Linked DNA regions of Homo sapiens: regions 1 and 2 are each linked to region 3. The links come from fine-mapping of genetic effects on gene expression. A gene starts in region 3. Each other region holds a variant in brackets. All regions are shown on one strand. Distances are between the middles of the regions. Region 1 overlaps LOC105377343 (a long non-coding RNA gene). Region 2 has its middle 110 kb from the start of TSPAN5-DT. Region 3 holds the start of TSPAN5-DT (TSPAN5 divergent transcript).

What was found.
Region 1: its variant is fine-mapped to the expression of TSPAN5-DT in whole blood (INTERVAL, PIP above 0.99).
Region 2: its variant is fine-mapped to the expression of TSPAN5-DT in whole blood (TOPMed, PIP above 0.99).

Annotation. Positions count from the first base shown.
Region 1 is chr4:98,789,533-98,800,468 of GRCh38, reverse strand. All of the region lies in intron 2 of LOC105377343 (a long non-coding RNA gene), which reads left to right. Among named protein-coding and RNA genes, the nearest start is that of EIF4E, 130 kb to the left of the region's middle. The variant T/A (reference allele first, on the strand shown) is at 5,564.
Region 2 is chr4:98,763,886-98,774,821 of GRCh38, reverse strand. No RefSeq gene overlaps it. Among named protein-coding and RNA genes, the nearest start is that of TSPAN5-DT, 110 kb to the right of the region's middle. The variant A/G (reference allele first, on the strand shown) is at 6,179.
Region 3 is chr4:98,652,600-98,663,535 of GRCh38, reverse strand. TSPAN5-DT (TSPAN5 divergent transcript) reads right to left here and starts at 4,634. Exons shown (of 3, transcript NR_148380.1): 1 at 4,514-4,634; 2 at 2,610-2,738; 3 at 1-546. It overlaps TSPAN5 (tetraspanin 5), which reads left to right and starts at 4,925. Exons shown (of 8, transcript NM_005723.4): 1 at 4,925-5,390. The coding sequence starts at 5,310. It overlaps LOC112267901 (a long non-coding RNA gene), which reads right to left and starts at 4,813. Exons shown (of 3, transcript XR_939016.3): 1 at 4,664-4,813. RefSeq lists silencers at 4,768-4,947, 5,201-5,360 and an enhancer at 9,068-10,267.

The sequences.
Region 1 (10,936 bases), 140 kb before region 3:
GTGCAGCAGTTCATGTCTATAATGCCAGCACTTTGGGATGCCAAGGTGGGAGGTTCACTTGAGGCCAGGAGTTTGAGACCAGCCTTGGCAACATAGAAAGACCTCATCTCTACCAAAAATTTAAAACTTAGCTGGTGTAGCAGTATGCACCTGTAGCCCTAGCTACTTGTGAGGCTAGGTGGAAGGATTGCTTGAGGCCAGGAGTTCAAGGTCACAGTTAGCTATGATCACGCCACTGCACTCTAGCCTGGGCAACAGAGTGAGTCCTTGTCTCTATTTTTTTAAAAAAAATAATAATTATACATATTTTGAGACAGGTTCTGGCTCTGTCACCCAGGCTAGAGTGCAGTGGCATGATCTTGGCTCACTACAACATCTGCCTCCCAGGCTCAAGCCATCCTCCCACCTCCACCTCCCAGGTAGCTGGGGCCACAGGCACATGCCACCATATCCGGCTAATTTTTGCAATGTTATAAAGATGGGATCTCACTTTGTTGCCCAGGCTGGTCTCAAACTCCTGAGCTCAAGCGATTCACCTGCTTCAACCTCCCAAAGTGCTGGGATTACAGGTGTGAGCCACCATGCCCAGCCTAAAAATAATAATTAAAAAAAATAAATTTTAAAAATTCAAAAATCTAAATCAGATTATGTTACTCATCTGCTCAAAACCTTTTCATGGCTTCCCAATGTCCAAAGTTTTTATTTTGACCTGCAGAGCTCATTAGGGATCTCGGCTATTTTTTCTGACCCCATCTCCTTCCATTCACCCCTTTGCTCCCTTTATCCTTCTACACAGGCCTCTGCTATTTCTGCCAAACCCACTCCTGTCTCAGGGCCTTGAGTTTGGTGTTCCCTGTGCACTGGAGTCTCTTTCTCTGGATAACCACAGGCTTCTCTCAGATCTCTGTGAAAGTGGCACCTCCTCCTCCTGGCCACTCTAACTGAAATGCACCCTTTGCTAGTTTCTACCCCCTTATTTGGTTTCATTGTTCTCATGTCACATAGCACCTACCTGAGATGTTATATGTAATAACTGGTATAACCTCTGCAGAATCTTGTAGAATATTCATAGAATATCAAAGTCCTGAGTGCAGGGACTTGGTTTTGCATTTGCTTGTATCCTCCGTGCCTAGAACAATGCCTTGCCATAAATAGGTGATGATTATAATATGTCCCATTGGATAGAATTATGTGGAGGCAATAAACAAAATCCATGTCAACCAAAACCCAAAAAAGAAATAAAATAATTTTTATATTGTCTTTGTCGTGTGCTTTGCACACCAAATTCTGCCCTGGGAGTAGCAGTTTAGTCACTTCGGTTCACCAATATCAACACAGAGTTTTCATTATCAAGATGTCTGAATTCTAGCGCAAACCTCATAACACAATGAAAACCTTTTAAGACCAAAATGGCAATTTGATGGGAAAACTATTTTCAATCTCCTTAGTTTTTGAACTAGAACATACTAGCACTTCTCTTGGGAGCTCCATAGTGAGGTCTGATGCACTTCTTAATGGCTAAGAGAGAGGAAATTGGAGAACCCTGGCGATGAAGATATCAGCTGGGACAATGGGGAATTGAAGGTCAGTTTTGTACGCACTTCTTGCAAGCACTATAACTTAAATTCAAGCCTCCTAAGCAGTGACAGGGGAATAAAACCCAGGGCTGAATGATTGATTTTGTTGTCCTTACTTCAGTACTACATATCAAGTATATTTTTTAGTGGAAAGCTTTTGGTATACCTATTAGTATGGCAGGCTTTTACCCTCGACTCGAGAACTTGTGAGAAAATGCTTGAGGCTGGTGCAAAGAGTGCTAAGGGGATGTACTATATGATCTTTATCATAATGCAATAAGAAAAGAATTGAGTACTCTTTGTTGTAAAAGAAGAGAATTTGCTTTGAACACATCAGACTTGAGAAATTGAACGGGCAAAGGAGCCTGGCAGCTCAACTTTTATGGGATTTTTTTTCCTTTAAAATATTAGAATCTCTTATATAACTCATGGACTATTTTTCTGAGTAGCACTTGAATGTGAGAAGAGTCCTTTAGAATAATCTCTGTGGAATAAATTTTGTGTCAGCATCTTTTTTTTTTTTTTTTTTTCTGCATGGCATGGTGGGCTTTTAAAGACCGTTTTAAAAAAACTTCTCTTTCCTCTCAAAGACATACGCATTAGAAAAAAGTTGCTTCATACTGCCTGGAAACCAATTAAAATGGAAAATGCTAACTTGTCTAAGTCTCTGTTTTCTCACCTTTAAAGTGGGGCTGGTATTTCCACCGTTTAAGGATATAGTGAGGATTAAATGAGACAATACAGCCACAGCTCTAACCTCAGAGCTTTGCAAGTAGCCGACCTCCTATATATTATCCTTCTTGTTGTTACATTGTTATAAGAAGGAAGTAAAGAGCTCAATTTATAGCCTTAACAACAATTTAGGGAAGAAGTAGTTCCAAAGACATGAAAGTCCAAAGAAAAAGCTAACTGGTGGTGATTTCATAAAAATTTGCACAACTTTCAGGTTCAACTCAATAGAGTATCATTGTCCTCCTTCTATTATTCAGTAGCTAAATATGGTGTTCTCAAATCAAAGGGAAGTAATTGGCATTCATTTTAATTTTTAAGCTTTACTTTTTAAAAATTGGCTATACAAGTTGGGCATGGTGGCATATGCCTGTAGTCCTAGATACTTGGGAGGCTGAGGTGGGAGGATCACTTGAACCCAGGAGTTCAAGTCTAGCTTGGGCAACATAGTGAGACCTTCATCTCTAACGAAATAAAATAATAGGGGTTATACATTACATGGTTCAAAATTCAAAAGATCCACAGGGTGTGAAGCAATGTCTCCCTTCCACCCCAGCCTACCCAGATATAGTCTAGTTACATACAAAGACTTGTGCATACTTTTCCCTTTACACAAATGGGAACACATAGCACTTGCTGTTCTGCACCTTCATTTTTTCACTTAACAAATTACATTAACAATAATTCTCATTTTGTAATGGTTGCATACAATTCTTTGTATAGATGAACATAATTTGTAAGCCTGTTAATGAACATCAGGTTGTTTCAATCCTTTCCTGTTATAAACCACATTGCAATGAATAATCTTGTGCACACGTCATATCTCACAAGTGCAAATATATACTTGAAGGATAAAATTATAGAAGGGTAATTTTGATAGGAATTGGCAAATTTCCCTCTAACGCAGTTGCGTCAATCTTTTACTCTCACCAGCAACGAATGAGCAAGGCTTTTTCCCCACACCCTTGCCAACACAGCGTGATGCCAAATGGTTTTTCTCTCGGCTATTTTGACAGATGAAGTTTTATTTTGCATTTCCTATGAGCCCATTTGAACATCTACAAAATATGTTTAAGGGCCATTTGTATTTCCTTTCCTGTGAACGGTGGATTTCTCTCCTTTGCCCATTTCTCTATTGGCTACTGGTACAGTGGGATATTAAAGGTTAGAGTGCATTGGATAGTAGAAAGGCATAAGTCTTAAAGTTGATGGACTAATATTTAAATTCTGGTTTGATCTTTTATAGGTTATGTAAATACTTTTTGAGCTTCAGTTTCCTCATCTCTAAACTTATGATAACAATCTCTTTTTCACACAGCTCTAGGGAAGATTAAAAGAGATAATTTACGTAACATACTTAGTACAATATCTAAACCCTTAGTGGGGGCTCCTTCCATAATCCACGGTTTTATAAAGATTGCAGCAAACGTTTTTCATACTTTTAAGGAGTCACATATAATTTCACAAAAAAAGAAGAAAAAAGATATGAAGAAGAAAGAATAGTGAGTGGAAAGAGAAGCCATGTTTTATCTTTAAAAGCTCATGGGTGTTAACTTTTATTATAAAATTTTTCACACTTAGGTATTTTCAATCCTTTTTAATCTGTTGCCCAGCATGCTTCTAAAGCCACTTCTTCCTCTGAAGGTGATTAGGGAATACAGGCTAATTTTAATATTAGCATAAGTAACACATAATTAGGGAAGTAAATCTTCTGTGCCCAGATGCCCATTATGCATTACAAAGTCAATATGTAATATGGCTTTAAAAAGTCATTTGCTGCTTGGCATTATTTGGGGGTTTATCAGGGCTTTGCATAGAGCCTTACAGTCAGCTCACAATAGTGTTTGCTAAACTGACTTGGTCCCTTGTTTCTTTTTGCTGGTAGGATAGCAAAAATGCCATCTTCTAGACTCTTCCTTGGGCAGGTGGGTGCCATTTCTCTTTGAATCACTAGTGCCTAGCTCAGTGTGAGGGACATAGTAAAGGCTGAATCAAACTGAATCCTGAGGTGAGACATGGGCTTTTCAAATTCCATATGAATCAAGGTTAAGCCCCCAAAGCATTCTGAGTGTCACCGACTTTCCAAAAGGACACTGATGTACTCACTCTTTTGCTCTATATGCATTTATTTTGCCAGAACTATCTATAGAGACAGGATTTTCAACTTCTTTTTAAGTTCACAACATACTATTTTTACTGTCTTTCAAATTTCCTCTTTCTGATTCATCAAATGTGATATGCTATATATTCATTTGAAATAAAATTAATTGTAAATCAGTTTTGTGAGTTCCTTAATATCTCATGAGATAAATGGAGAGACTGTAAAGTGTTATGAAACCAGGATGGAAAATTTAGTCTGCATATTCCAGGATGTGCTATTTCAATAGCTTCATAAATGAGGGAATGCTGAAGATAACTTTCTCATGTTTTTTCTCTTTCTAACCATTTAATAGTTGGTTGCTCTCTTCTCTATAGGCCTAGGATGCAGTTTACTGAGAGTAAACATGGCACATGCTTCAGCATAGAGTTTCCAAGCAAAGGATGACAGATTCTCACAAGCCTCACTTTTACTTGACGAAATGGAAGGGTAGGATCTCTGTATTTCATTTCTGAGAAAGCACACAGATTACTGCAACTGTCTACCTTTTGGCTTCCGGCAATTTGTCTCCTTTGCCTATGAAGAACCACCTACTCTCTTTGTGTGCTTAAAAAGTCACTTGAAGATCCCTATCCTTTTGCTCATCACCAGTGCCCCCATGCCAACTCTGCGTGGGGATTGCAGAGTCTCCACTTAGTGACAGTCATATTCATCTTTCCAAAGTCTGGGAAGACTGCAGAAAGGGACACACCAATATATTCCTATGTTTCAATGCACTTTAGCCTTAGGGATTTTTGTCAAACATGGCAGGAAGGCCAAATGTGTATAAAACATCACTGCAAGGGCTCTGAGCCTGGAGATATACCCTAAAAGTGCCTGGTGAGATTACTGACAGTCCCTGTGGGTCCAAAGAATTGCTGTTCACTTGTCGGACCCTACTGTCTTCTTATTCCCTCCTCCAGGTTATCCCTTTCCATTGTCATTGATATCTTTGTCAGGGAATGTGCGATAGAGCAAGCAAAGGCAACACATCCTGATTAGCTCTATCACTTGCTAATAGATGTGGTAGAGCAGGTAAATTTCATAGGCAGAATCTAGTTTGTGGTTCAGCAACAAGATCCACCTGTTCCTGAGACCTGTAACCATAAGTAGTTGAGAG[T/A]TAACAACATGCAAATTTTTGCTTCAAGAAGAAACTAGTTAGGCTTCAGGGCTTGAACATACCCTTAGGGATAGGAACTGGATAACTTAGCAGAAACTCACACAAGTAAGAGCCTGCTAAGAGTGGGAGGGTGACTCAGCAGTGGCCCAGGAAGCTAAACAGCAAAGACTTGCTGATTAGTCTCAGAGAAGCTGATCTGAAAGAATATGAGAAGCTACAGGGACTGAGGTTAGGAATGAGGTGGTTCAGGTTGACACGCTGCTTTAATCACCAGATGCTCCATTATTTCCATCCTGCTAATTGTAGTTTCAAAATTAGCAACAACTCCCCCACAATAATTAGGGTTTATAAGTGCATGTGCCCACATTTCAGGATTACGCATGTAGTGTTCAAGTGTTATACAGCTAAAATTATTGTGTGTATTTGTGTAACTTGTTCGCTGAATAAGTGAATTAAGTAGGATACAATCAAGAAACAGCTCTGTTTCTCCTACCACTGCCTATAAACACACTTGGTCGGACCTCTATTCAAAGCCCCTTGAATGCATCTAGGGTAGAAACATAGTTCTTTGGTCTTTTATCACCTTACTAAATTCTTTCATTATTTATAATAGTTTTTCAATAGTGTCTCATATTTTCCATGTATTCGTCAGATCAAATGAAAATAGTTTGCAAAAGTTTTCTCCCATCTGTAGGCTGTCTGTGCACTCTGTCCCTAGTTTCATCTGGTGCAATGTACTTTATTCTTTTACTTCTCAAACTGTTTTCTTTTCTCTGTTGTAAAGCCACCCCACATTTTAGGGTTTTGTTATGGTAGCACCCCACTTTTGGTGCCAAAATAATTATTAGTTGTCCATATACAACAAGTTATCCTAAAATTTAAATGTTTAAAACAATCAATATTTACGAATGCACTCAATTTCTATGAGTCGGGAACCCAGGAGCAGATCACTTTGGAGGTTCTGTCTCCATGTCTGTATGAGGTTACAGTCAAGGTGTTGGTCAGGGTTGCAGTCATGTGTAAACTTGTCTGAGGTGGGAGGATCCTCTTACATGATGAAAAACTCAAGTACTTGGCAAATTCGTGCTGGTTCTTGGCAGGAGGCCTCAACTCCTCATTATGTGGACCTCTCTATAGGGATGTGATCATGAACATGGCAGCTGGCTTTTCCCATAGAGAATAGTCCAAAAAAGAGCAAGGTGGAAGCTGTAGTGTCTTTCATGCTACCATTTCTTGCATCTTATTGGTTACTTAGGTTAGCTGTATTCATTGTAAGAGGCTATAGCACAAGGTCATGATTACCAGGAGGCAATAATCATTGGAGGCCATACTAGAGATACATAATTATGGCAGATACCTAAAATAATGTGTTTGAAAGATCTTTAATGATTGGTTAAATGAAAGAAAAGATTCAAAACTGTTAAAGCAGTATAATCTAAAAGTTATTAAAAATAACGTTTTAATGTTGTCTGAAAGTATGTGTGCATGCAGAAAAGATAGACCAAAAGGGAAACAAAAATGTTAGCATGACTTTTTTCTGAGAGGATGATGAAAGTTTAGGTTTTCCCATTTTTCTCAATGTGTGTGTGTGTGTGTGTGTGTGTGTGTCTATTTTCAAAGTTTTCTAGAGTATAAATGAATAGCTTTATAATTAATAAACATGAATTTTGAGGGCACAATTAGAAAAATTATTTTAAAATTTTGCTTATTTTCTTGAAGACACAATTTATATTATTTCCCTTTAGTTTGAAAGTTAAAGTAAACTTTCGATACCCAGTAAAAATCTAATCACAATTTTAAATGCTAGGAGCTGTTAACTCTTAATTTGGCAGTTGATGACTTATTTCATCTTTTAAGATAATCATCTGCCAAGTTTTAAATTAATATTTGTAGTAGCACAGATGGAATATGTGTGCATGCATAAATGAGTGTGTTCAATGAGAGAGGGAGAAAAGGACTCCTTTAAATATTCTTCCAGAGAATTATTGCTTAGTAATAGCCTTTGGGCTATTTAATATTCAATACTAACTAAGAATCGCAAACTTTCAAATTTCCTCCTTTACTCAAACCCTTGCCTTCATAATTTTTCCAAAAAGATGAAATTTAAAGAAGAAATATAAAACATTCCCATGAGATTGTTTGAAACAGAAAGACAAAGCAAAGTTTAGTTGAGCTGGATCTGAAACTTCCAAAAATGTACCAAGGTTGAGATTCTTTGAAGCTCTTTCTGAAAATTAATGCAGAAGTTATTCTTTCCTTTGGATGTGAAAACCGTCTATGTTTATGAAGTTATTTAATGCACAACTCAGGATCCTAGAAATCTTTCCAATTACATCTCCATCCACTCAGATCAGAGCCACTGTGTTTCACTGCTCATAGGAGCCCAACTGAGTGTTACTGGGGCTGAAGTCCAGTTTTACATACTTTTCCAGACATTAACTATGAGAGGAAATCTGTTTTTTCCCCCTCCTAATTCATAAATTGTCTTCAGATGGACTAGGAGTGAATTTTATCACTCCTTTGCATTTTGAACCCTAGGAAATCCTAGCCATTTTGTCTGCTGTTTTGATTTTCCACTCATTATCTTTCAATTATTGCTGGGGTATTTCTGTGTTTTATACATTGCTTTCTCAGCTCCTTGTAAGTTCCTCAAGGTCAAGGACCATGCCTTACATTTCTCATTTCCTATGGGTGGCTACCAACATAGCAAATGGCAAACTCTAGCCATGATCAAAAGGCATTTAATTAATTGTTAGACACCTGAAACTTAAGTCTCTAATGTATTTATATCCCCGTACTTTGTGCTATTTTTGTTGTATATTTTCCATCTACGCAAATTGCAAATTCCAAATATAATTTTTTTACCTTAAAGGGCCAACTATCTTTAATATAATTAAAAAAGGAAAAAATGATAACCTTTTATATCTACCGAAAAAATGGTAACTTTTTATATCTACCAATGTATTTACATTTTTGGTACTTTTCATTACTTCTATAAATTTGAGTTGCCATGTGACATTTTCTTTCAGCCTGAGGAATTTTCTCTAACTACATTTCTTATAATTGATGTTTGGGGGTAATAACTTCTCTTAGTTTTCATATATTGACAATATCTATTTCACCCTCATTTTTGGAGTATATTTTGGCTGTATATATAGTTCAAGATTGACTTTTTCCCCCTTTAGCACTTTAAACAAATCTTTTAATTGTCTTCTGGCTTCCATTATTTCTGATTAGAGGTTACATATCATTTTCTTTTTTTTTTTTTAGAAAGAGTCTCATTTTGTCACCCAGGCTGGAGTGCAGTGCAGTGGCACGGTCTCAGCTCACTGCAACCTCTGCCTCCCAGTTCAAGTGATTCTCCCACCTCAGCCTCCTGAGTAGCTAGGATTACAGGTGTGAGCCACCATGCCCACCAATTTTTTTTGTATTTTTGGTAGAGATGGGGTTTCACCATGTTGGCCAGGCTGGTCTTGAACTCCTGACCTTAAGTGATCCGCCTGTCTTGGCCTCCCAAAGTGCTGGGATTACAGGCGTGAGCCACTGTCCCTGGCCCATGTATCATTCTTATAGTTGCTCCTCTGTAACATCATTTTTTTTCCTAACTGATTTAAAGATTTTATCTTCAATTTTCAGGCAGTTTGACTATAGTGTGCCCACATGTGGTTTTCTTTGTATTTATCCTGCTAGTGATTTGTTGAGCTTCTTGAATCTGTGGGTGGATGTTTTTCACAAAATGTGGAACATGTTTGGCCATTATTTCTTCTAATTTTTTTCTACTTTATTCTCTTTCTCCTCATCATCTAAGACTCCAACTGCACGTACATTAGACAACTTGATCTTGTCTCATACCTTCCCTGTCTATGGCACAGGATATTTGTGATGTTAATAGAATGTGAAAAATCATTTTGAAGGTTTATACTTTAGCCTCAATAATATGAATTTTAAAAAGGAGTCTGTAGTAGTACTATCAGAGTTATTACAAGGATGAAATGATTTATGAAAGAAGCATTAAGGAGTACCTGACATATACTAAATACTCAATAAATTATTATTATTATCTGTATCAGTTAGCTATTGCTGCATAATAAATCACCTCACATAATAATTGTGGTGGAAAGCAATTGTTTCTTACAAGTCTACAGGTTATCTGGCAGCTCTTCTGATCAGAGATGGGTTCATCTGTTCTCATTCACATGTGTGGGGATCATCTGGCTATTATGTAATCTATGATGGCCTCCACTGGGATGGTTGGGTCTGCCACATGCGTTTCATCCCCCAGCTGCCTAGTTCTCATGATGATGACAGAGCACAAGAGAGGAAGTGGAGACATTTGGAGATTTTAAAAAAATTCTTTCTTTTTTTAATTGACAAAATTATATATATATATATTTATGGTATACACATATGATATTTTGATATATGTACACATTTCAGAATGGCTAACTCAAGCTAATTAATATATACATTACCTTATACCCTTATCATTTTTTATAGTGGGAACAATTAAATCTACTCTCAGCAATTGTAAGTATACAATACATTGTTATTAACTATAGTAATCATGCTGTACAATGGATCTCTTGAACTTATTCCTTTTGTCTGTCTAATTTTGTGTCCTTTGACCAGCATTTCCCCAGTCTTTTCCACTTCAGCCTCTAGACCCTGGTAACCATCATTCTATTCTCTGCCTCCCTGAGTTCAACTTTTTTATTACACATAACAGGGGGAATAAAAATGTCCCTGGAAGAATGTAGTTAAAAGATAAAAATACAATATAAATATACATATTATTTCTCAATATAAACTCCATCAAGTTCAAAATACTTTTGTAAACAATGATACTAGCCTATCCCTAAAGAACTCAGGGCCTTGGGAATTTAATCATGTCAATGCAGTCTCTTTTTTTACATCATTAACTGAGAAAAAAAATGGGTGCCATTTACACATTTTTTAATATTAGGAAACAAAAAGAAGTCAGGAGGAACCAAATCAGAACTGTAAGGTGGATGCCTAAAATTGCCCTTGGTTGATGAGAAGAAGGAGCAGGAGCATTATCATGTAGAGAAAGAGTATCTGGTGAAGCTTTCTCGGGCATTTTTCTGCTAATAGCATTGGTTAACTTTCTCAAAACACTCTCATAATAAGTAGATGTTATTATTTTTTCTGGCTGTCCAGAAAGCCAACAAGCAAAATGCCTTGAACATCCCAAAAAACTGTTGCCATGACCTTTGCTTCTGACCAGTTCACTTTTGCTCTGACTGAACTTCTTCCACCTCTTGGTAGCCATCGCTGTGATTGTACTTTGTCTTCAGGATTGTACTGGTAAGGCCGTGTTGCATCTCCTGTTACACTTCTTTGAAGAAATGCTTC
Region 2 (10,936 bases), 110 kb before region 3:
CTGACCTCGTGATACGCCCGCCTCGACCTCCCAAAGTGCTGGGATTACAGGGTGAGCCACCGCGCCCGGCCGAGAAGACTAATATCTTAAGGCACTTACTTCACAGAAAGCAGGTTTTCCCTGTAGTTCTATTATCCGAAAGATCCCTGTGCTGATCAAGTCCTTTGTTTGGGTATGTATTTACTGAGTAGAATTGTTCTTTCTGCACCGTAGAGTCCAGGAATTGGGCCAACTCTATCAGCAGGGATTAAAGTAAAGCATCTAAAGGGAAATTATCTTAGCTGAATCTTCCTTAGTTTGGTGATGTGTGGTTTTCAACAGAGTCCAACCAGATTACTGCCTACCCTCCAACTCAGCATAAAAGATGGAGCTCCTCAAAATCTTTTTGGTATTAAGCGGGATATTCTTCATACAAAACAATTACCCAACAGGCCAAACCAGATAGCGATTGGCATTATTATTAACAATAGGTACCATATGACTGAGCTCTCACTATATGCAAAGTACCCCCATCTCATCCCAGTGAATCTTCACCACACCACCACCAGCGCAGTGCTACTGTTATCCCATTTTATACCTGAGGCCACTGATGCCACATTAAGTATTGTGCTCACATTACTTAGAAAGGCGCATGGATTCCAACCAGGCTTGCAGACTCCACTATTCCTTACAGCTGATTCTTGAGAAGAAATGATGGATGATCCAAAAAGCCCAGAGGACATTTCTGGGTGGACATTCCCAGGACCCCGGGTAAGGGAAAAGCAGGGAAAGGTTCTGCCGTCTCTGAACTTGGTCATTCAACCTTCCTTCATGAGAGATTGCTTGGTCCATTTAGATGAGGTTGTCTGCCTCTGTGCAAAGGCGGTCATCCTCCTAATGACAGCACAAGGGAGGAGGAGAGGCAGGAGGGCCAGGAGATGGCTGCATGAGCTCCCATGGCTGTGATGGGCAGGTGTTTCCCCTAGGGCACAGGGCCAATGCCAGACAACCCTGTGACTCAGGGATGTGAGTCCTCCGACTAGTTGCCTCTTGTAGCTGGACCGTGCTGTTCTACCAGGAGCTGTGGGTCAGAAATCAGCTGGCCCAGGTTCTGATCCCAGCTCTGTCACCACCCGGATAATTATCACCTTTGAGTGAGCCATTTCACTTCTCTGAGCTTCAGTTTCCTCCTTAGTAAATGAGGATATTAGACTAGGCAAATTAAAAATTTCTAGTAATCTGATTCTTCCCTCAGGACTTTATTTTCATGTATCTTTCAGTTAATTTTAGTAGCAATTTTTCTTCTTCTTCCTCTTCCTCTTCTTCTTCTTCTTCTTCTTCTTCCTCTTCCTCTACTTCTTTTTTCTTTTTTTGACATGCTTTTGCTTTGTTGCCCAGGCTGGAGTGCAGTTGTGAGATCTCAGCTCACTACAACGTGTCCCCCTCCTGGGCTCAAGTGATCCTCCCACCCCAGCCTCCTGAGTTGCTGGGACGACAGGCATGCCACCATGCTCGGCTAATTTTTGTTTGTTTGTTTGTTTGTTTAGTAGAGACAGGGCCTCCCTATATTGCCCAAGCTGGTCTTGAACTCCTGGGCTCAAGCAATCTGCCCGCCTCAGCCTCCCAAAGTGCTGGGACTACAGGCATGAGGCACCATGCCTGGCTGATTTTAGTAGTAATTTTCAAACAGGGCTCCAGGAGGTGATTCAGAAGTTCTGCAAAGAATAAAGTATTCACCAATAAGTAAGGAACCCATTAAGAATATCTATTTATATATTATTATTTGAAATGAGATTTTACTTGAAAAAAGTGTGCTATTTCTATTCCATTTGAAAACCATGCAGTAGGCAACTCAAAGACAAGAAGAGCTTTTAAGACCTAATTGAATGACTTTATAATGCAGGAATTTCAGGCCAAGCGGGATGTATAGGGGAGGTCTCTCCCTTAAGGGACCCGCAATCTTGCTGCCTCCTGCACATCTCCTGCTCATCTAGAGGTCAGACCTCCAGTCCCCATATGCCTCAGTGGCCACCATTCCCCAGCAAGAGGCTTTCCACAAGCACAGGGCCTTGTGTTAATGGGAGTTACTGGCTGAACAGCAAGTTTGTCACCCCTGAGGGCTGTGGCTCTGCTACGCTTTTCTGGCACTTCAGTTGACACACATCTCTTCAAGAACATCTTATGAGAAGAGAAATACTATCACATTAAATGTTACATGTCAGTTGTGAGATGCATCCCAATTTCAGAAAATTAAAATGTGAGGAAAGATGAGTCATAGAACTCAAAAGCTGAGAAACAGCTTTCTTTGCTGAAGTCCCTGCTTTGCTATAAGAGAGACCAGGGACCATTATCTTTGTCATTTTTTCCCTGCACCCAGTCGTAAATCTGAGCCTGTTCCAGCAGCTCACAGCCTCTCACAATGTTCTTTGTGTTGGGGTGGGGTTGCTTGCTGGTAGAATGCTGCAAATTAGCTGTGCCACTCGATTAAGGGAAACTTTGCTCACAATGGTGCTTTGTGACATTTTCATCCCACTCCAGGTGAAGAAATTGACCTGCATTAATATGATGACTGTTTTTAGCACATGACTCTTTTCTTGTGCAAAGAACAGGAGCTCACGGTGGCTCCTTTGAACAGCCAGGAGTGATATTTCCACTCCTGCAATCAGTCAATCCAATACTCGAGGGTGGGAGGCACAGTCAGTTAATATTTACTTTCTACCTATCCCTGTGTTTACCTCCACAGAGCAGCCTCTGTAACAGGTGATTGATTCCTATCAGAGAAGAAAACAAGAAGAAAACGGTGGAAGAACTGAAGAGACATAGCCAGTGTTGATGAATATTTCCCTCCCTACTCCTAAACCTTCCATTTATTACCTCCACTGCAAAAACAGGCCTGAATAGTTTGAGGATTTTGTCTGGAATAAAAAAAGAAGATGCAACTCAAAATGGTTAAAATCATCAAGAAACAGGGGGATTCTGTATCTGGCTAATTTGGAGGCTCACCGATGATATCAAGCACACAGATTTCTTGTTGTTGTTTGAGACAGGGTCTCTTTCTATCGCCCAGGCTGGAGTGCAGTGGCGTGATCATAGCTCATGGCTGTCTCTATCTCCAGGCTCAAGTCTTCCTCCCACCTCAGCCAATGGCATAGCTGGGACTACAGGCACACACCATCATGCTCAGCTAATTTTTTAAATTATTATTTTTAGTAGAGATGAGGTCTCACTATGTTGCCTAGGCTGGTCTCAGACTCCTGGGTTCAAGTGATGCTCCTGCATCAGCCTCCCAAAGTGCTGGGATTACAGGTGTAAGCCACCATGCCTGGCCCTCAGATTGATTTAATCTTTCTCCTCCTCAGTCATCTTTAGCATTTCGAATATCATGCAGTAGAAAACTCTCAAAGACAAGATGAGCTTCCCTCTTAATCCCAATAAACTGCAGGATCAGCAGGCGTCATATCTTGAGAGAAGCAGAAAAGGGACCAACTTTTCCTTGAGTCTCTTTTACAGAGCTGAGAAGATTTTTTCCAGAATTTCATCCTTCCAGAGTATCCTCACTCACCAGAATTGGGTCACATGTTTATCAGTGAACAATCACTTCAGGAGGACATGACTACTGTAATTGGCTTAGGTCAGCTAAGATTCATCAGATCACACAGAGTAAAGGGAGACCTGAACAACATAGAGGCATGAGAAGGGGAACTGTCTGGTTATCAATTTCCAGTGCCTGCTACAAAGAGCTAGAGCCAACGTAATATCCCAAAATTCAGACACTGGCCTGGTTCCTGAAAGGACGTATTGCAAGTAGTTATACAAGTCTTGGCCTTTCTGCCCTCGTTGTGGTCAAATCTCCTGGGATCAAAGGAATTCCTCTGGAGACACCAGAGGTGCTGTGGGATAACCAGATGTTGTGCTGTCCTAAAAGACTCTGTCAGGGAGGCATCTCCTCTAACCCCCATATCCATCCTTCACCCTTTTTTCATTTTTCTAAAACACAGATCTGAGCAGATCACTCTCCTACTCAAAAAAATCAGGTAGCATTCCAACCTGTGCCCAAGCCAACTTCTCTTCATATTCCATATATTTTATATGTGAGTGACTGGGAATGTGTGTTACTTTTCAGTTTCCTTTGTCTTTGCTGTATCTTGAATTCCCTTCCCTACTTGCCTGCCTGATAAAATCCTACTCATCCTTCAAGACTCAAATAAAATGTCAAAAGTAACCGGCATCCCCTAATTTCCCCTTCATTTGCATCTCCACAACGATTGTTACCATGACTTTTAAGTCATTCCATTGCTATTACAGCCTCCTGACAAGTCTCTCTGCCTTTTCTTGCCTCCCTCCAATTCTAAGGCCACATGTCAGAATGATATTTCTAAAGCAATAATATAATCATGTCACTCTCTTGCTAATATCCTTTATTGGCTACCTACAGTGCACAGAATGCAGGTCTGTAACATGCTTCATCAAAGCCATGTTGATTAGGGTACCCTTTCACCTTATACTGGATGTTCTGTCGCAATGAACTATCTATAGTTTATGATTACAGTTTGTTCTTTCTCACTTCCAAGATTGTTGCAAATTATGTTGCCTATGCCTGAAATGCTTTCCCTCACCACCCCTGCAGCCTTCAGGTCTTAGCTGCCTGGTTTTATTCTTCTAAGTTTTGGTTAGTGCTCGCCTGTATGTTTTCAGAGCCCCATGGGTTTGCTCTAACATAACATCTAAGCTGCTGAGATTTCACAGATTTTCTGAGGTTCCCTCAGGACAAGGGCTGCTTTTTGTATATAGTTGTAATTCTGGCACAAAGAAAAGATTCAAATGTTTGTAAAAGACGATATTTGAGTTGATTCTTGTAGGATAAGTTGGAGCAACATAGGCCTTAAAAATACTGATTCTTTCACCCCTGTGCAATATTGATTAAGGCTCAGGCACAGTGGTGAAAACTGTTACAGCCCAATGAGTTCTTCTTGCCTGCTGTCCAGAAAAACCAATGCACTGAGAACAGCAGGTGTTGCAGCAAAGAGAGTTTAATAATCACAGGCTAGTCTAGTAGAAGGACAGGAGATAATTCTCAAATCCACCTCTCTGAGAATTCAAGGCTAGGGTTTTTCAATGACAGTTTGGTGGGCAGGTGGCTAGGGAATGAAGAATTCTTATTTGTTGGGTTGGAGATGACATCAAAGGGGGTCAAAACTGTCCACCTGAGCTGAGTCAGTTCTTGGGTGGAGGTCACAAGACCAGTTAAGTCAGTTTCTTGGGATGGGTTACTGGGTCTGGATGGTTCCAGCTGGTCCATCAGAATGCAAGGTCTGAAAAATACCTCAAACACCAGTCTTTGGTTTTACAATTATGATGCTATCTATAGGCGCAGTTGGGGAGGTTATAAATCTTATGACCTCCAGCCACATGATGCTGGAAACATAACTCTACCCTTGTGGCAAATTTGTTAATTTTACAAAGGCAGTTCTAGTTCCTGAGCAAGAAGGGGGTTCATTTTAGGAAGAGATGCTTATCGTTGTTTTAAACTATGAACTAAACTTTTCCCATAGTTAGCTTGGCTTATATCCAGGAATGAACATAGATGGTTAGCTTGTGAGGTTAGAAGGAAGACAGAGTCAGCTATGAAGATTTCTCTCACTGTCATACTTTTTGCAAGGGCAGTTTCAAAACTACAAGCCTTAACTTTTTCATGGAACTATCATTTTTAAAAGTTTCTAAAACTTTCAGCATTTGTGGACCATTTACTCTGTGTCCAAATTGCACAAATCACCAATAAATGCAAACATTTTCAAAAGATTCCTCACAATTTAAGAAATAAAACTAAATTATAATATGTTAATTTTTCATTGTTATTATTATTAATAGTTCCATATTGGTAAGAAGGATCATACTTTTTTTACCGTCTTTCATGGAAGGATCCACAGATAATTTGAGCCATTGGCCAGGTTTCTCTTTGTTCTATTAAATTACAACTGTTTTAACTCACAATGAAAATTTTGGGAGATAGTTAACAAGGTGGATCTTTCCAATGCTTCTGAGCAAATTATGGTGAGACTGCAGTAAGATGTCTCTCTCCATTCCGTTACAAAACTAGGCACTTGAGTTTGGATGTTTCAATTTGAGAGACAGTAGTGGATGAATTATTAAATCCAATCTGGGTGAGTTCAGCTTCACAAAGTACTTCATGTTTTTTTGT[A/G]GGCATGTTCTTAAATTTTTAAATATGTTCATTATGTAGGATCAGTTTATTTCCCCTGTGAGTGAAGAAAATCATCTAGGATTGAAAAAAATTGAAATGCACAGCAACCAAATCATCTGTGTCATAATTCAGTCTTTTAAAAGAAATCTTGATATCTCATCCTTAACATTAAAAAATCATTATATTTCAGCCCTGAAGTGATAGTTTTATGCTATTCAATATGTTGATAATATCATGCATATAATACTGAACAAGTCACTTGAAGTTAGAACTACCCTTTACTAGAGTAAGCATACATCCCTGGGACAGTCCCAGTTTATGTCTATTATCCCAATAAAATTAATAAAAGTGCCCCTTCTTACTCGCTGAAGTGTCCTTGATCAGACAATAAATCAGACAGTCTTCTCAATGCTTCCTGGCATTAACAGTATTATGTAATGTAGAAGTGTTTCTATATATGATTTCATATGAGTATTTTGAATAAAATTGAATTTCTATATATGGTCTCATGTGGGTATTTTTTCCTATGACAGTGTGAGAAGTAGAATTTTTTAAGTCATTGCCCATTTTCCCCCACATAGCATGCTAAATAGTTTTATTGTTGGTGGATATAATTTGATCATATTTATAATTTCCATTATTTGGTTCAACATCAAATCAAGACCAGGGATGACAGTATTGAATGCCAATGAATTCTGTAAATAAAAGAATGTGAGGCTAGGTAGTCAGGAAAAAATTCTTTTACTCTCATAAAAACCTCCTTCCTAGATGTCCACATCTGTCAACAGTGACCCAAGTTCATATCACCTCTCACAAAGGAGCTTTCAAATAATGAACACCTGCTCTTTAATAACATGAGAGTAGTGGAACTAATGCCATCAAGTGCTTCTTGTTCATGGATGAATAGGACGTGTGCCAAGGTGGATACTCTCAGCTTATCAGAGGTTCCATCCAACTGAAAAGAACACACATATACACACATGCATGCACACAACGTGAATGTGTGACAGTGAGTCCACATTATATGCTGTTGTCATTATGTGACTCCAGTGGTTCCATATGATAAGGGATTACCTAATATTTCATTCTGTTTCCTCTCAAGCACTGTATTTTAGTATCTATAGAAGTTTTATAAACTTCTTATCAACAGTGTGGCCTGTGTCTAACTTTGCAGTAAGAAATAAAACTGAATGATGTCTTAGTAATATTGGTCTCTGCCTTTAGTGACAAAATACATTGGTTCCCTCCTGAAATACATTATTCAGGGATTGTGCTAGAAAAATTTCATTAGTTTACTAGAGAGGTTACTCTTCTTTATTTGTAAATTTTGGGAAGTTTGGCTGGCTTCACACAACTGTTTGACAAAATTTCAGAACAGTGTATCAAGGAATAGGGATAAATAGATTATTAGTTCAGGAATATTCAATTTAATGGTTTTATCACTGGGCATACTTTCTTTCTGCATTTTCTTTTTTATGTTGCATGTATGAAATTATCCCATCTGCAGATCACCTTGAACCAGAGCATATAGATTCACATTCTATAGTTGCACAGAATTTCTAATCACCACTTACAATTATGACATTTTTCTGAGTTATTGTATTTATTATACTTTGTATCAATATTTTTCACTTCAGAAAGCCATTTTGAGCCTGTAGTCCATTTTTATTAGTTGGAGAAATAATAGAACTAATAATGTTAGATATAAGCTGACTTTTCTGGTAAAGCACAGTAGAAGCTTTAAGAATGAATTGGTTGTTAAGACTGTAACAGCCTTTCTATGAAAGTCATGATTTTACACTTCAGATGTGAGAGGCACATTGAACAAAAGAAAGGCTCATTGCTCTTTCTTGTAAATCTGCCAGGGGCTAGCAGTGTTCTGAGAGCACATTTTTAGAAAAGTGCCTCAAAGGGTAGGTCCACCTGTTGCCTTCATATTGATCTCTGGTCAACAGAAGGGCATAGTTTTCTCCTAAAACTACAGGACTGAAAGTCATTCTCCTGGGTGTAATGCCAAAATATCACTTTAGCACAGAGAAAATCATGTTCTCAAATGTGCTCCAGAAAAGATGTTCGTACAAGTTTCCTTGGTTACAATAGTGGTGCTTCCCAGTCCTTATGGCCTGAAAGCTCTCTCCACATTGCAAGAATGCAGAATGCTCTATCAAACAATGATATTAGTCTTTAGTAGCAATCAGAAACATTATAAAGCTTAGAACTCTAGGAGTATTTTGGCTACAAAATAATGACACTGGCCTCACAAAGCAATACATGAAAACCAATTTTGTTAAATTAATCTGTTTGTTTATTCATTCATGTAGTGATCCTTCAATTAACATTTATTGAATGATTATTTACTGAAACTTACTACAACTTCTGCCTTTATCCTCCCCACTCCACCCTATTTACCCCATTAATTAAATTTTTGTACCAGGTTCTGAGTCTCAGCTTTTAATGATTTTTTCTAAATTGAGGTGTAACTTACAGTGTTTGTACAGATTTTAAGTGTACTGTTCAAGTGGTTTTGACAAGTGTATTAAGAAGCAGAACAGTTCTATAAAATAAGTTTTAAATTGCAATTATAATAATTTAATATAACGATGGCTTTTGGATCATTTAACACCTATTTGGGCATATATTTTGATCTCTTAAACAGCATATTAGACATAGCTGAAGAGAGAATTACTGAACTAGAAGATAGATTTGAAAAAAATTACATAGGATATAGCATATATGCAAAGAAAAGAAACAGATAATATAAAAGACAAACTAAAAGATATAGAGGTTGTGTATTCAGAATATACTCAGGACTCTTACAACTCAATAATAAAAAGAATAACTCAATTTTAAAATGGGCAAGGGATTTAAACAGATATTTTCCCAAGAGACATACAAACGGCCAATAGGTGGGATTTGAACAGACATTTTTCCAAAAGAGATACACAACTGGCCAAAAACCTACATGAAAACATGTTCAACATTATTTAGTCATTAGAGAAATATACATTATACTCATAATAAGATACAACTCACTCTCCCACCACCACACACTAGGATGGCTATAATAAAAAAAAAAGTAGAAACAATAAGCATTAAGGAAGATGTAAGAATCTGGAACCCTCATACATTGCTGGTGGGAATGAAAATGATGTACTACAGTGAAAAAGAGTTTGACAGTTCCTCAAAAAGCTAAACATAGAGTTACCATAAACTCTTTATATAAACTTCTAGGTATATATCCAGGAAAAGTGAAAATATAAGTGCTCAAAAAAAAGTATACATGACAGTTTATAGTGGCATTATACATAATAGCAAAAAGTAGAAACAACCTAAGTGTCCATCACTGATAAATGGATAAACAAGATGTCACGTATCCACACAATGGAATATTATTCAGACATGAAAAGGAATGAAGTGCTGATACATGCTACAATATGGGTAAACCTCAAAAATATACTAAGTGAAAGAATACAATCACAAAAGATCACATATTACATGGTTCCATTTATAGAAAATATTCAGAATAGGCAAAGCTATAGAGTTAGAAAGTAGATTAGTGGCTGCCTAGAGCTGTACTAGGGGTAGGGAGTAAGGAGGAAAGGAGAATGACTGCCAATGAGTACAGGATTTCTTTTTGGGGTAATACAAATGTTCTATAATTAGATTGTGATGATAGTTGTACAACTCTGTGAATATATTTTTAAAAATCACCAAATTGTGATGGATGGAATGGATGGGTGGGTGGAATTTATATATTTCAATAAAACTGTTTTAAAAATATGACAGACAAGATTTAAAAAAAAAAAAGGAAATGATCACTTTCCTCACGCAATGTAAGAAACCATATCTTAGTTAAAATCCCCAAATTGCAAACAATAAAGGAAATGATTAATAAAATTAACTACACTGATAAATCTAACCGCCCTAAATTAAGATCTTCTGCTTATTGAAAGACATCTTAAAGAAAGTAAAAAGACGTGTCTGTTCATGTCCTTCGCCCACTTTTTGATGGGGTTGTTTGTTTTTTTCGTGTAAATTTGTTTGAGTTCATTGTAGATTCTGGATATTAGCCTTTTGTCAGATGAGTAGGTTGCGAAAATTTTCTCCCATTTTGTAGGTTGCCTGTTCACTCTGATGGTAGTTTCTTTTGCTGTGCAGAAGCTCTTTAGTTTAATGAGATCCCATTTGTCAATTTTGTCTTTTGTTGCCATTGCTTTTGGTGTTTCAGACATGAAGTCCTTGCCCATGCCTATGTCCTGAATGGTAATGCCTAGGTTTTCTTCTAGGGTTTTTATGGTTTTAGATCTAACATTTAAATCTTTAATCCATCTTGAATTGATTTTTGTATAAGGTGTAAGGAAGGGATCCAGTTTCAGCTTTCTACATATGGCTAGCCAGTTTTCCCAGCACCATTTATTAAATAGGGAATCCTTTCCCCATTGCTTGTTTTTGTCAGGTTTGTCAAAGATCAGATAGTTGTAGATATGTGGTGTTATTTCTGAGGGCTCTGTTCTGTTCCATTGATCTATATCTCTGTTTTGGTACCAGTACCATGCTGTTTTGGTTACTGTAGCCTTGTAGTATAGTTTGAAGTCAGATAGTGTGATGCCTCCAGCTTTGTTCTTTTGGCTTAGGATTGACTTGGCGATGCGGGCTCTTTTTTGGTTCCATATGAACTTGAAAGTAGTTTTTTCCAATTCTGTGAAGAAAGGCATTGGTAGCTTGATGGGGATGGCATTGAATCTGTAAATAACCTTG
Region 3 (10,936 bases):
TCAAGAGGAGAAAATCAATAAAGGCTTGGGGCAGAACCTCAAAAGGTGTTTAAGTCAGGATACTTTCAGTTGTATGAAACGGAAAACCCCTGTCAAAGTATCTTAACCAAGAAATTTGTCTCATCTGACAGGAAGTCGTGAGTAAGGCCACCTTCAAGGTTGGTTAAGTCAGCCATACAACAAAGGCTGGAAGGCCCTGGTTCTTTTTATCCTTCCACTCTGCCATCCTTGGTGTGGTCTTTGTCATCAGGCTGTAGAGGATCGAGGCATCACATCCAAACCCAACCAAGTCCAAGGGCGAAAGAGACCATTTCTTAGATGCAAGGAAACCTCTAGCAGATTCTTCTCATGGCTTGTTGACCAGAATTGGGCCACCTGCCCATTCCTGAACCACACATTAGCAAGAGGAATGGGACTGCCAGATGTGACGCAGAGGGCCAGTCTTCCCAGAGCATGTGGCTGCTTTAAGAGGGGGACGCTGAACACAGCTGCTAGGGTTCTGAGAGGAAGGCGGCAGGAGGGGTGTGGAGGCAACCAGCAGGGCGGCTACAGAGAAGCAAAAGAAAAACAGAGAGGAGCAGAGAGGCAGACAATGACAGAGCCCAAGAGGAGGGAGGCAGGAAGGTGGGCAGGAACAATAAAGCACAGGTGGAGACAGACAAGCTCGTTAAGTTTGGTGTCTTAGGTTAAAACGCTGTTGTCATATCTTGCTCCTCAGCCAGGCAACTATTAGAAGAACACGCTTTACCTGTTTTCACTGCCACTTGAAGAGCTGATTAACTTGTCAGTAGTTAAACTTATTAACCATTTTTCAACCTCAGAGTTATAAGGGAGGTGGCCTTAGCAGTATTCAGACAGAAAATTTTTCTCCTTTTCTCCTTAAAATAGATCAGCATTTATTGAGTTGTGAAGGAGTTGCGTGAAATAAATATGATTACTTAGTTACTTTCTTACATCTTTATGTATAATTTTATCTTCTTAATTGTAAAAGCAATTTAACCACACTTAAAAATTGCAAACCAGAAACATGAAAACAAAATCACCCAGCCTTATAACTGTTCTTATTTGGCAAAAATTAACTCCTAACTTTTTTTCATACAACTGCATACCGTTTTGTAGACTGCTTTATTTTTCAAAACGTGTATCATATACATGGTACAAATTTCAAAAACAGACTAAAGGGGTTATTTAAAAATAAAACATGTCTCCTTCCTATCAGTATCTTTAGTCCCCCAGTTTGCCCCCCATTCCACCCTAACTCGCTGTTACCAGTTTATTTCGTTTTCTTCCATAGATAGCCTACCCATTAACAAGGAAATATGTGTATGGATATTCTTTTGCCAACAGAGCTTATCTTTTCACAAAATGATAGCCTACTGTGTACACTGTTTTTGTTCCTTGTTTTTAAAATTTAACAATATTACTTGGAGATAATTCCATATATAGTGCCTTTAAAATTTAACATTATAATGTATCCATATATTGCCACATACTCTATAAGCAGTATCTTCAAGAGCTGTAAAAACTGTGAGCAAATGACTCATTCATTCCTTTAATAAATATTTATCAAGCACCTGCCATATCTGCAGAGCTCTGGTGATTCTAAGATTACCAAGGGTTAGGTCACACCCTAGAAGGAGTCACAGCAGATTGAGGAGACAGGTAGGTAAACAAGTTCTTACAGGCAGCCTTTAAGTGCCGGGATGGAAGAACACAGCGGGTGTTGAGGGAATAAAGAAGGAGCCTCCGAGACATTGAACAAAAGTAGTGAAGAATAAGAGAAATCAGCTCACAGACAAGAGACAAGGAGAATGCCCCAGGCAGAAACTCTAAATGACATGTGCAGAGGCACAGAATGTGAAGGAACATTGTGGTCCAAGTAACTACAAGGAATTGGATATCACCCCTACTCTTTGATCTTTAATTTCTGGCCAAGTCTTCAATATAAATAATGCTATGATATACATCTTGCAGTGTATAACTTTTTCCATCTGCTGGGGTATTTCTTTGGGTAGATTCCCAGAAGAGGGACTGCTGAGTCAAAATGTAGGAGCACTCTGACCTGATATATACAGCCAAAATGCTTTCCAAATGGACATATTATTTCATAAGGACACCAACAATGTATGTGCTAACCAGTGCTCATTATTTTTGTATCTTTATTAGTTTTAATGTATACTTCATTTATTACTAGATTAATTTCCCCATATATTTTATTTCTTATATGATTTATTTTCTGTTTATACTCAACCACTGCGATTCTATATTTTACTATAGCTCTATGAGCCCTACTTATAATATAGACATTCAGGTTTTTATTTTTCATGTTTGCTGCCAATTTTTTTTCTGGTTTAGCTTACACTAAAAAAAGCTGGACACGTAGAAGTGTTTAAGATATTACCCAATCATATCCATTGATTATTTCCTTCTATTGCCTCTAAGTTGAGAAATACTTCTATACAGAGGTTTGACAAATATTTTTCCTTCTGGTCTGCTTTAAAATATATTTAACTCCTTAATCCTCATAGAACTTATTTTGGATATACGAAATGAGATAATTCAATTAGTTTTTCCACCCCCCCCTCCAAATTACTGATTAGTTATCTTACCTTTCCCTTCTCCATTGATTTTTCTTTTTAAGACTTTATTTTCTTAGCAGTTTTAGTTTCACAGCAAAATTGAAAGAAAGACTGCATACTGTATGATTCCTTATATATGGCATTCCGGAAAAGGCAAAACTAAGGAGACAGGGATACAGTCAAACTTCAGTGGCTGCCAGAGACTGGGGGGAGGAAGGGATAAATAGGTGGTGTACAGAGGACTTTTAGGGCAGTGAAAATACTCTGTATGATACTATGATACTATGAGGGTGGGTTCATGTTATTCTATATTTGTCCAACCCTATAGAATATACAGCCCCAAGAGTGAACCCTAATGTAAACTATGGACTTTGGGTGATAATGATCTGGCAATGTAGGTTCACTATTTGTAGCAAATGTGCTACTTTGGTTGGGGATGTTGACAATGGGGGAGGGTGTGGGGTCGGGTATATGGGATATCCACTGATTTTTATTTCAAAGATAAATCCACTTAGAGATCAACTCAGTCATCAATTGCATCTAATTTCTGGTCCTTTTGAAATGTGTCACATCAGCTTAGGACAGACCTTTCTTCTGACTCATCCAGTATTCCTGCAGCGACTGTTCTATTTATATACAGAATTACAACATAGCTCCAATAGGCTTAGGTAAAGCTTGTCAGTACCTTCCTGTTAACAAGGAAATCTGCTGCTGAAAGACCTTACTTTTGAAGTCTACCAGATTGGTGGTAGTATGGCCTGTGTTTTGAGTGGGTAGAGAGCACTTTTGAGGGAGTGAGGATTATTTCATCCAAAGGGCTGAAGCTACTGTTATCCCGTGTCATAGCTTCTGAGGTACTGAATGAGTAGGATCTCCTGGCCCTCCCATCTCTGTGGGTACCTCGTTCATACTTGCGACCTCAATATAGCCTCAATCCTGCTGAAGCCCAGTACTATCTCTAAATGTGGTTTATTGCAGGAAAAAGTAGCTTCTTGACTAGCCAAAACTTGACTGCCGGTTGTCAACTAGCCAGTTTTTGAGAAAAGTGAGAGGTTGTTACGTAGGAAACCTTATAACTAGAGGCTCTCAAACTCAAGTATTTAAGTATCATCTTTTAGATTTCTGTGTCCAGGATCGGGTTGCACTGGGTGGTGCTGGAAAAATTTTTTGATCTCACCTCCTTCTAGCCTTTTGAATCCTTAAAAATATTCCCATAGACATTTATACACAGTCCTGGGCGGTTCTTCCTTCTCCTTCCGTGAAATACTGGTACCTGCTTTGCCAACACCTATGAAAGTGCTCCAGGAGGAGGGCGGATAAGCAACTAATGAGCACACCTGCTCAGGTAGGGTTCTAAAACAATTTCCAGCCACCTGTTCTATTCTTCCCCAGAGTTCAAAAGCTTAATGGTTCGTGATCCAAAAACCCAATTCAGATTCCCCAGAAGACCTCCCTGGAATCCGTTGTGGATTCCTTCCTAGAGTTAGGAGGCAAGCAGGTTTCTTAGGCACTATTCTGTCGGGGTAGGGGGGAGCGTGCGCTGTCCGGGTTTGTGTGGTTGCAATAGACCCTAGGGCGAGGATCGCATCCCGGGCCAGGACTCCCTTGAGCCATCTCTTTTTCCTCGTCCCCATTTCTAGGATAAAACCCATTTCTCCGGTAGGTGGGGAGGTTGGGTTAGAGTCACACAGGGATTCAGGAAGCTTTCCTTTTCAACGTCCCATCCCTTCATCCTTTCCTCCCACTTCCCGTGGCTCTTTTCTCCACCTTCCCCAACTACCCCCTTTTCCATTCAGCGAAGTCCACGACGACTTTCCTTCCCTGTCCAGTGGCATCGCATCTTCTCTAGCCACATAAGCCTGTTGTGGAGGAGGGGGCGCCAGTGTGGCTACCCTGGAAGGGGTGTCGGGGGTGGCTCGCAGGTCCTCACTCACCCAGCCCTCTCCCCGAGGAGCGACCCTCTCGCCCGCGTCCCTCCAGAGCTGCGCCGCTCATCAATCCCGGTCACTCTGCCAGCCTGCTCCCCGGGCGCCCTTCCTTCTCCCTCTCGCCTGCGGTCCTCCACCCTCCCACCCCCTACCTACCCCGCAGCGACGTTCGGGGTCAGCGGCGCTTGGGGTTGGCCCGAGAAGGGGCGGGGATAAAGCGAGCGGTGGAAGGAGGCGGCTACGTGGTGCCACCGCCGCCCGGGAGCGCCCGACCCCGTGCGCGCGCGCGCCTAGCCAAGGCTTGGGCGGCGGGCGGAGCTGCGGGCGGCGCGGGCGGAGGAGCAGCCGGCCGGGCGGGCGGAGCGAGAGGCGGGCGGAGCGAGGGGTGGGAGGGCGCGCGCGAACGGGCGGGCGAGCAAGCGAGCGGCGTCTCCACCAGCATCTGCCGCGGCCGCCTTTGCCCGAAGCCCGGGGACGAACCGACGGACCGACCGCCTGGCGCACGGACGCGGGCGCTCGCTTTGTGTTCGGGGCTAGCGTCGGCGAGGCTTGAGCTTGCAGCGCGCGGCTTCCCTGCTTTCTCGCGGCCACCCCGGCTCCGGCGGCCTCGGCGCGCGAGGGGCTGGAGGTGCGGGAGCCGCTCTCCGCCGGTCGGTCCCCGCGCGGCTGAGCCCAGGCCGCCAGCGCCGCGGCCCCGTGCGGTGTCCCTGAGCTCCTGCTCCCCGCCGGGCTGCTCCGAGCAACGGTGCTTCGGAGCTCCAAACTCGGGCTGCCGGGGCAAGTGTCTTCATGAACCCAGAGGATGTCCGGGAAGCACTACAAGGGTCCTGAAGTCAGTTGTTGCATCAAATACTTCATATTTGGCTTCAATGTCATATTTTGGGTAAGTTGGAGCGCTCCTGGGATTCCAACTATTGTGGCCGATCGATTCGCGACGATTTCCCCCACGTTGTTCGTTGCCTTTACTTTTCGCAGCCCCGCAGGCGCTTGCCGGAGCAGCATAGAGGCATTCGCCTTCCGCCTTTCCAGCTTGCGCGTTGGAGAGATAAACATTTAATCCTTTCGAGGAATGGGAAGAGGTGAAAAGAGAAATCGAGGCGGAAAGGGGGCACCGAGGCCTTCTGGTGGCTTTTTGAGGAACGAATAGCAGGGATGCAGATAAAAGAAAGGGTTCGGCAGTTTGAGAAATGAGCAACCACACGAATTGGATTTGCTCTCGGTGGGATATAGATGTTGGGCAGAGCGTGGTGTCATAATAGGGAAGGCTAATCGGGCACGGCCGACCCTGAGGTCCACCTTCTAACAACGATCTGATTGGACGAGGGCTTGGCTCCGTGTTGCCGCGGCTGGTCTGTGCCATGCTCAGCGTGTATCTTCTTGCACCATCTCGGGCTTTGTGTAGGATGCAGATGCCGTGGTATATGGTCCTGTAATTGCACGTAAATAACGTTTCCTGCACGCTCTCCTCTTCAGCTGGAAAGCGCTCCCTGTGCGTAATGGACTGGTCAGTGGGGGTGCGGGGTAGAGGGATTTATTTGTATGTATATATCATCGTCAGGATAATAAGTCACCGTCAACATATATTTCAGTGTGTTCCTGCCCCACGTCCTCATTTTTAAAGGAGTGACACAGAGCGGGCCGTTTGGGGGAACCTTTGTAGAAATGCAAAGGAGAAGGTGTGCGAGGCATGTTTTATTGGGGAACCGAGAGAGCAAATGCTTTAACACAAGATTCAAATGATGCTCTGCTTGGGACTGCAATGTGTTGGGAACCTATTGTAATTAGGCTGGGACGCCTACTCTTTTTGTTTGTTTGTTTGTTTTGATTCTTTTCCTTGATCTGGCAAACGTGTTCAGCAGCCAGACAAAGAGTTCTCCAGGACAAGGGGAAAACGTTGGTTCAAAGACCATGTTATTTTTCTTCCCCTTCTCATCCCATCTCATCCTCTTCCTCAGTGGGCACCCGCATTTCCATAGAAAGTAAAGATGGTGGCTGTCTGGGTAGGGGGTTCTCTAAGTTGCTGTTCAGTGTGAGGTAAACAATGCTCCAACTGCAGGATCAATAATTATCCACAGCAGTCTGAACACGGAATGTATTTATTTGAATTCTCCTTTAATTTGGGCTGTTTGCTGTACGTATATACATCTGTGAGAATAGTTGTCAATACGGCTCTTCATATTCTTTTTTTGTACCGCACTCTTACCAGGTTATTTTATTTTCTGTTTTCTATTATAATACCTTGCATTGGTCATGTATGTTTTGTGAGGGGAAATGCAAGGGATTGGAGACCACTTTCCGTGTCAGCATGTCATCTGTCTTCAGGACTAATAAAGATAATGAGGGGACACATGAATGGATGTCATATCCGATCATTCCACAGGCAGTTTTTTGCCAGTGTTGTGCATGATTCCCGGGAGCAGTCACCCACCTCCCTGCAATTAAACACTGCTACAAGTACAGGAAGAAGGAATTATTTTCTTTCTTTGCCCCTTCTCCATTTGTGAAAATGTTTAAAAGTGGTGGGTAGCCACGGTTTTGAGTAAGATATTCTGATTTGATTGGAACTTGAAACTTTGTGACTTGGAGAGGCACGGACTACCGAACTGGGACTGGTTCTTTTTGGGGTAGTGAGTTCAGGCCTCTTGTTTCTACTTGAACATTTCTAAAAGTTGCACATTTTAGCTACCCAGCAACAAAAAGCACCCAGGGACTTTCTCTGCCGTTTCCTAGCAGGGGGTGGTAAGGAAATAAAAGGATTTGGGTCTGTTTCCCTGACAGTTTGCTGTAATTCTGTGGAGTGCATAGAGACAAATTTAGCCCTTTCTATGGATTAGGTTGCAGCAAAACCCCTGGAATTGTAGAGAGCTTCAAAGAATTGCAGAGTGCTTGCTTGGAGAGGTCCAGAACAGAGCCGCATGTTTTCTGATTGTGAAGGTCTTCATAGGTGGGTGGGTGAGTATGGGAAGCCTGAAAGGAGACCTAGGCTATGGGACTAAACTAGCTGCCCCAGGCAGAATTGTTAAGTGAGTGCCTTCCTTATGAGGGCCCTTCACTTACCCTGCCTCTTGCCTTCCCTTCCTCTCCTCTCTGTGCCCAAAGCCTTCCTCTCAGATACTCCCTCATACCTTTCCTATCCTGCTCTCTGCCTCAAAATTACCCCATATTTAAATTTCCTGCTTTATTGTACCATGGTCTCTAGTGATGATCAACAGAAAGGCAACCATATGGTTTTGGTTAAAGTAATTCAGACTAAGATGTTAGTGACTGAAAAGCTGGGGTCAGTAGCTTGGCAGCTTGCTTCTGAAAAGTTACACACCTCTGCTCTCTACAGAGTCACCAACCTGTCTGTGATTGCCAAAAACAGCAGACTCGGTGCTACTCCCATACAATTATGAAGAAGAGATTGCCAACAGCATGGTTTCCTAATTTTCATTTTCACACTGAACTGCTAGACTACATTTGACATACACTGGTGACATTCAAAGGTATAGTTCTGGTAAAATAAAATTGAACATATGGTGGCACCAGCACTGAGAGCTTGGTTCTTTTCCTGATCAGCAGTTTGGCTCTTCATCAGTTAACTGCCTGGGCCTCAGTTTCTCAGCTGTTAAATTGAAGGAGGTGGATGAGTTATAACGTTCTTTCTAGTTCTTACACAGAATGAGTTTCTTGAGTTCCAATATGCTGGAGAAGAAAAATAGAAGAGTTTGGCCACTAATTTATAACAGAAGTAGTATATACCAGGACACGTGATAAATTATAGACATTTTCTGTTAGGGAGACTTGTCTGAAGACTAGTTTTATTACTTTCATTTCTTCCTCAAAGATCCTTTCATAAAAAACAAACAAACAAAAAACAAAAAACAAAAACAAAAAAAAACCAAGGCTGGGCGCGGTGGCTCACGCCTGCGATCCCAGCACTTTGGGAGGCTGAGGTGGACGGATCACAAGTTCAGGAAATCAAGACCATCCTGGCCAACATGGTGAAACTCTGTCCCTACTGAAATACAAAAAACTAGCCAGGTGTGTTGGCGGGTGCCTGTAGTCCCAGCTACTCGGGAGGCTGAGGCAGGGGAATCACTTGAACCCGGGAGGTGGAGATTGCAGTGAGGCAAGATCACACCACTGTACTCCAGCCTGGCAACAGAGCAAGACTCCGTCTCAAAAAAAACAAAACAAAGCAAAACAAAAAACCTTTCACTAATTTCTTCTTGGCTTGTTCAGTTCCTGGTATAGTGTCCGTGCTTCTCTCTCCCCACTGTGAATCTCAAATGTAGTCCTGTGAGTCATTAAATATATTTTTATTATTAGAATTACAGCTTCATGTATAAAATCTGAATCCTTTTATATAACAGTTGTAATGACATTCTGAGTAACAAAGTCAACATCTTGTACAGATTCCTTTCTCATTAGTTATCACAGGCTGGTGGGGGAAAACTTGTTTCCTCTGTTATATATTGGAACAATTCAAGACAGAAGGGAATTGATTTTATTGAGGGTGTCACCGTACTGGGACATTTCTCAGAAAACCCTGAGACTGCTTTGGGTTTGGGGGAGGGAGAAGAAAGAGGATTTTGTTTTAAAGTCATTTCTTTGGGGTACCGAACACCACATCCCATCACTCATCATTAATAGATGTTTTGCCCTTTTGGATTCTGGCTTTTAACTGTTTTGGATTCTGGATACTTAACTGTTCCCAGGCAAGTAAATTGATCTCAATATTCTGGTTATTTATTGCTACATAACCTCCAAGCTTAGTTGTTTAAAACACAGTTGTTTATTATTATAGTTCACAGTTCTGTGATTTGGCCAGGCTCATCTGGACAGTTCTCACTTGGGGTCTCATACAGTTGTGGTGAGATGTAGTTGGAGTTGGACTTACCGGAAGGCCCTCTGGGCAGGATGCCTGAGATGGTATACTCATATGACTGGAAGCTGATGCTTGCTGGGAGCTTAGCCAGAGTTGTCACTGGAGCACCTACCTACACGTGGCTTCTTCCTGTCTCTAAGTCTTAAAGAAGCTTCCAGCCAGTTAAGGTTCCACTTAGAACTGGCAGTGCCACTTTTATCTATTCCATTGGTTAGAGCACTCATGCAGACTGCTGAATTTCAAAGGGTGAAGAATTAGAAGCCACCTTTTGATGGAGAAGTGTCAAGGTCACATTGCAGAAAGTCATGTAGGTTGTGGCCATCTTTGAAAAATATAGTCTACTGTATTAAGGCACTGAGCCTTAATTTCTTGTTTATAAAGGAAAGATAACATTAATGGTGTTGTAGTTTTAAAGATTCAGTGAGATAATGTTTTATTCGGCATAATATCTCAATATTTAACAAATAGTGAATATCATTACTGTTGTTGTCTCCAGATTTTATACTGGTTCCATACAGGGCTATAGAACTTCTAGAATGCCTTAGTCTAGTACTTTGGCATCATTACTACTAGGTAATGATAATACCCTTAAGATCTGCCAAGAAGATGAGGCAAATGGATTCAATAGATTTTATAGTGACTTGTTAGGAAAGAACTCAATGGAAACGGTGGAATGATTTGGGAGAACCAAGTCATTTTTCTGTTTTCTTTGCTACAAAGGATTAGAAAAGCCTCAGTTACTTGAGGCCAACTTTCTCTTTTGATATGCTTTCAGATATTACCTTGTGTCTTTAAGTGCAAGTTTATCCAGGGTTGATGGCAGGATCTTGCCTCTAATTTGCTTCCACAGGGCTTAATTCAGAGAGGAGGGAGACTCAGGAAACCTTGGGGCGGTGGGGGAGGGGGGGCATCAAGTAGGAAGCTTTATCTTATGATTCACTATAAATTGCAAGATGTTCTGGAATGATGATACATCAGCAGTTTATAAGTCATAATTTTTGTTTTAATTTGCTAGACATCTGTTAGCTTCGATGGCAACCATATGGGAATCTAAATTGCGTTTTGAATTACAGGGAGATGGTAGGAAGAAAGCTAAATATGGTTATGAAAGTGTCATATGGGAAAAGTGTAAGAAAGGTATAAAGTGGGGAAAGTAATTGAATATAGGCTTGCTTAGTGTGGCCACTCCCTCTGTGGGGCAGTATGAAGGCGCAGAAGCATTCTCACTTGATATACTCCGCAGATTGAAATGAAGCCAAGTGGGGAGAAGTTGGAAAACCAAATCATGTTTCAACCACCATAAACTTGCCAAAATGTTGCACTCATTTAGATGGGTCACTTTGTTTTAATGTCCACAGTAATAGGTAGTCCCTGGCAAAAGGTGAAAGCAATCTGCATTTTTAACAGAACTTTTCACTAATGATGTTTTTCTTGTAAGCACCCCAAAGAGTCTTCCAAGAATATTATATCTTTGTGACAGATGAAGAAATTGGAGTACAGAGATGTGGAGTAACTTTTGAGGTGTTGAAGAGCATGTCAAGGTTCAGTTTCAGAGTGTT